Linked DNA regions of Homo sapiens: region 2 is linked to region 1. A link means that fine-mapping ties the variant in region 1 to the expression of a gene that starts in the linked region. Tissue or cell type: prefrontal cortex. Region 1 holds a variant in brackets; the other region holds the start of a gene. All regions are shown on one strand. Distances are from middle to middle.

Region 1 (2,500 bases):
GTGCCGGGCACAGGCAATGAGGTTGCAGGCTTCCACACAGGCCTGGATGGCTGGGGCAGCCTGCTTCAGGCTGCCACAGAACTGGCTCAGCCCTAACTCCGGGCCTTTCTCTGATAAAGAGAAAGGGTAAGGTTTGGGAGTAGAATGGAGGAGAAACAGGCAGAGAAGATGGCCTCTCCTTAGGGACCCCAGCTCCTCTCTCCCTGACCTGGGCACTTCTCCAGCACTCATCTGCTGTGCCTGGCTCCCCAGCTGGGGTCCCAGGGGAGGACTGTCCCCAGGCACACCTGGTGTGTCTCACCTAGCTTCTCCAGCGCTGCCGCCACCAGCCCTTGCCGCTGCCACTGCTGGAAGAGGAGTTCACTGCGAGGCAGGCAGAGGGCCACCTCCTCCCCAGTTGTGATCGACCATCCCGAGGAGCCATTCTGTAGCCGGGACTGGGTGTCCTGCACAGCTGCCGGGGCCAGCGGGCGAACGTGCATCCTCAGCAGCTGGGGCAAGAGCCTCAGGAACACCTAGAGAGGGGGTGGCTTCACTAGGGCAGCAGGCCGAGCTTCAGAGCAGAAGCCAGAGGTTGGCGTGAAGGGCTTGTGCTGCTAGGGACCATGGAGGCAGCATACCGGGGCAGTGACGTGGCCTTGGTAAAGCTTTCTATACTGGACACGAGCCTGGGTCCCCAAACTTCAGTGCACATCAGAATCACCAGGGCACTTGTTATAAACACAGATTCCTGCCCCCAGCCCTCATGCTATTCTGGCCTAGAATGCCTGGGACAGGCCTGGGAATCTGCATGTGCAACAAGGGCCCAAGCTGAAGGCTGCAGGTGGGCTACAGATCACACAGACTGGAATCAGACTGCCCTGGCAGACTCCTGCTTTTTCGACTTTGTAGTGCACTTCCTTGGGCAGGTTACTTAACCTCTCTGCGCCTCAACGTCCTCATCTGTAATTGGAGGTGATATGGGTTTTATGAAGATGAAATACATTAACATTTGTAATATCCCGGGCACCTAGGAAGCAATTTCATTCCTGTATTACTGTAATCGATTTTGGTCCATGCGTCCAGATACGCCCAGGATGGGTGTGCTGTGGAATGCCACAGGTGAGTACTGCCGGGGCGTGCGAGAGGGAGGCGTAGGGGAGTGGGCAGCGGGATGTTGAAGTGGGCAGGGAGGGTCCTTGCCTTGCGGACCCCTCGGGCCATGGAGTGTGTGTGTGGAGACCGCAAGGAGACATTGAGCACAACCACAGCATTCACGACAATGAGGATGGTCACCACCAGGAGGAAGGTCAGGTACCTGTCAGGGTGGGGTGGGCAGGAGCTGGCAGCCCATACCATGATGCCACCCCCAC[G/C]CTTAGTGGCTGCCCCCCCTCAGGCCTCCTGAATTGAGGATGGGGGGGGTGGATGGAGGGCAAGAGGGCAATGCAGGAGGCCATCATGCTCCCAAGAAGGGAGAGTGGCATAGGCGGGTGGACATGAAGACCAGCCTTACTTGCTGATGAGTGGCACCGCCTGGGAGGTTTCAGGCACCTTCTTGGCCACAAGGAAGAGGAAGACAGTCTGGGCCAGGAGCACGTTGATGGCGACGGTACACTTCTGGCCCCCAGCTATCCATGACCGAGAGGCTCTCAGAGCAGGTTCCTACCTCCCCCACCCACAGAGGAACCCCTTACCCCAGAAGTAGCCCGCTGCCTCTGTCCTGGGTCGTAATGCCACTCTGTTCCCCAGGCAGGGCCCACCCCGGCCTCCCAGGTGTCCCCTGTGCTACTGGATGGCTCCTTCCCATAGGCTCCAGGTACCCTTGGCAGGAAGGAAGTGGATGAGGATGGCGACAGAGGAGATGAGCACACAGGGGGCGATGATGTTGATGACGTAGAAGAGGGGCTTGCGCTGGATGAGCAGGTAGAACACCACCTTCTGGTGGCCTGCTTCCTGGGCTGGCGCCGCTGGGTCCAGGAGCATCTTGGCTGGTCGGTGCTGGATGGCCCACTCCCCATTCTCTGCGGGCAGGCAGGCAGGCAGGAGTGGGCACAAGAAGCGTGAGCTAGGCAGATCCCTGCAGCCGAGTGACCCAGCTGCAAGGGCAGCATGTGCCCTAAGGAGCACCAGCAGGGGAGGCACCCTTGAGGGACAGAAGTGGGGTGGGAGATTGGATGCTCGAGCCTCTTCTAAAATTGGAGACATTATCATGAGGAAAGTCAGAGCTTTGTTGGACGTTTTAAAAAGCATATTTTATGGTTTGCTGTAGTTTTCATTTTGAGTTACATGGGAGGGATTTGACCTTGGTCCAGCCTTGACCACAGCTGGGTCCAGCAGGAGCCCTGGATGAGGCTGCCTGGGGAGCCCTTGGGTGGGGGTTACCTGTGAAGGCCTCAGGGTCAATGAAAATCCACTCGATGGTCTGGCCATCTTCCTGACTCAGCTGCAGATCAATCTCATTGGTGCTGTAAGTCTGGGACCTGGGAGTCACCGAGGAAAGAGGCTAAATGTGAGCGGGTGG
Region 2 (2,627 bases), 23 kb after region 1:
GCTGCCCTCTCGCCTGTCCTCACCCCAGGCTGGGCCGAGCCTCTCTCTCCCCATCTCTCCTTTCGCGCTCAGCCCTCCAGCCCACACGGGTTCTATTTCAGCAACCATGAACTTCTCCTGGTCACCACAGGAGCCCAGAGTGTTTCCGCCTCCCTGCCTTTGCACAGGCCATGCCCCAAGCCTAGCGTGTCCTTTCCACTCGGAGAGACAGACCTTCACAAACGTAGTCTAGGTTGCGGCCCAACACAGTCTCTGCCCCCAAGAGGAGAGTGAAGACTGAAGGGAAGGGACAGAGGCAGCAGAATGGGCCCAGGGTAGGCAGCAAGCTCACTGGGGCACGGGGGGCAGGGTGGGCACCTCGGCACTCGTGCGATCTGTGCTGGATCTCCATCGCCACTCGGTTTATTGCCCACTGGGCGCTCCTCTGGGCTGCCTGCAACGCCTGAGTCCCCTGGGCCGACAGAACTGCTGGGACAGGGGGCACACAATCATGCGTGGTTGGGGAAGAGCCTCAGCCTCATCCTCCTGGCCCCAGCCCTGAGCCCTGCCTCGGGAGACCCACCAGCCTGGGACAGAATGAGGAGGCAAGTGAGCCCCGGGGACGCTGGGCCCAGCACTCAGAGCCCGTGCTCCCAGGTTCTCAGCCCAAGATGTCTCCCTAATTCAACTGAGCTGGACTGGGATCTTTGAAAGGTGCTTTTCCTTAACAATTTTTTTTAAAGACACCACCCCAAAGATACAGACATCGCAGAACTCAGCTTTATTGACTGAAAGTAGCTGTGTTTGAGTGGCCCACCTTCGGCCGGGACAGCCAAGGGCAGGGTGCTGCCCCGGGCCGTTTCTCTCTGCTTCTTGGGGCCTTCTCTCCATTCCTTTCGGCATGCTCAACAGCTCCCCTTCCCTTTCCCGCCACACCCCTCCTCTCCCACCTATATCTCAGTTCTTGGCCCCTTCTCGCAGCAGGGTGGGCAGAAGGAGCCAAAGGTCCTTATGAGTGGGGGTGACAAGCTCTTCTGTCCCCGCCCGCCCAGGGTCCCACTTCCTCTACATTCCTCCCAACCCCGCGGCTCTCGGGCCAGCCTGGACTTACCTTGCAGGGCGCTGGGGGGCAGGCGTGTGTACAGTGGGTGCCCGTGGGCAAACCATGAGCTTGGGAGGGGTAGCAGCAGCAGCACAGCCAGCAGCATGGTGACCAGGAGCTGGGGTGAGAGACCCCTGTCCTCTCTCCTCCTCGGAGTCCACCTTCCGGGTGCCTATCCTTTGGTGCCCGCCTTCTGCTGCCTTTCGGCCCCCGGGCACTGAATTCTTGTCCCTCAAATCATCTGACCCCGTTCTCTTACATCAAAATTACCCGCCTCCCTGGTCAGCCCTCACCTGGCCCTTAACTCCTAGGAGCCCACAGGGGAATGGGGCTGCAGGGTCTTTATAGAGGACAGCCTGGGGGAGGGGTGCACGGGAGGGTGGCCAAGACTGGGGGAGGAGTGGGGTAGTGGGCTTGACCTTCACCTCTGAAGTCTCATCATCCCAGCTCCGAGCCCCCCTTCTGTCAAAGGAGCCCTTGTTTCTGCGGCTCCATCAAAGGGGCCAAGACAGGGAAGAAGGGCTGACGGTTGGGCTGCAGGCCAGGCAGAGGGGGGCTGCTGGGTGGGGGCGGGCCCTGGCTCCAGGGCTGGGATGGGGGGGGATCCCCATCTGCCTCTACCCCCTGAGGAGCTTACAGCTATGACGGGGCAGACACTCCTGGAGGGAGGAGGGCAGGGGGTGTCTGGGGTTTCTCAGCAGCCCCACCCCCTGAGGAAGCCCTGGAGCTCCCCACCCCTCTGCCCCTAATTGCTTGGCAGAGTCCCTCCCCAATGTGGCCATTTCTAAAGATGATCAAAGCAGCCTAATTAGCGCCGTAATTGCCGCACTGGGGGTGGTGGGGTGGGAAGGGGCAGAGGCAGGCAGCCGCAGGAGTGGCGCGGAAAGGGAGGCGGGAGATGAAAGGCCCACAGTGGCCCAGTTCCGGGAGGACAGGCCCTAGCAGCTTCTGACGCTCTCCCAGACCCCCTGGCCCTGCACAGTGCCCGCTCTGCCTGTCCGGCATTGTTCTGTGACCCTGATCTGGCAGTGGGATTCTTCTGGAGTCCTCTGGAGTCTCATGGGCAGGGCCACACAGCTCTCCTGGGACTGAGTTACCACCTGGGGTAGGATAGTGCCCGTCTGCGCTGCCCAGGCTCCCCAATTCATGTGAGGTGAACTGGTGGGAATATTTATCAGCAAATGCTATGACCCGGGGCTCTTTCCCCCTGGAGAGCCAGCTGTTCCACAGTGACCAGCACACCATGCTAAGGAGCCCTTTCCCCAGTTACCACCGCACCTCGCCATGACAATACCTCTACTTCAGGAATGCTCTGAAAATACTGTCTGCGGATGATTCTGGTGAGTGAATTTGGTGAAGTTGGAAAGGACTCTATTCACCAGAGTATCTGTCCATCTTGCAGGGTATCTTTTTATCCATGACCTCCACAATCTTGGTAGATAAGGCATTAGCTCAACACAGCTTGAATTTTAGCATAAACAGAGACAGTGTCCAAAGGAAGATCGCCTGCGGTTCCCAGTAAGAGCCACCAAAGCAGGGGACCCAG

Which allele goes with the higher level. Positions count from the first base shown, and alleles are read on the strand shown. Sizes are in standard deviations (SD) of each study's normalised expression.
As copies of G replace C in region 1, the expression in prefrontal cortex of the gene that starts at base 1,398 in region 2 goes up (moderate effect, 0.69 SD a copy in ROSMAP).

What was found. PIP is the estimated chance that this variant, and not a neighbour inherited with it, causes the effect.
Region 2: PRSS56 starts here. The variant in region 1 is fine-mapped to the expression of PRSS56 in prefrontal cortex (ROSMAP, PIP 0.95).

The regions. Positions count from the first base shown.
Region 1 is chr2:232,542,382-232,544,881 of GRCh38, reverse strand. CHRNG (cholinergic receptor nicotinic gamma subunit) reads right to left here. Exons shown (of 12, transcript NM_005199.5): 6 at 2,362-2,459; 7 at 1,800-2,000; 8 at 1,493-1,607; 9 at 1,183-1,297; 10 at 302-515; 11 at 1-110. It overlaps TIGD1 (tigger transposable element derived 1), which reads left to right. Exons shown (of 1, transcript NM_145702.4): 1 at 1-999. Among named protein-coding and RNA genes, the nearest start is that of CHRNG, 3.9 kb to the right of the region's middle. The variant G/C (reference allele first, on the strand shown) is at 1,353.
Region 2 is chr2:232,519,159-232,521,785 of GRCh38, reverse strand. PRSS56 (serine protease 56) reads right to left here and starts at 1,398. Exons shown (of 13, transcript NM_001195129.2): 1 at 1,091-1,398; 2 at 358-465. The coding sequence starts at 1,187.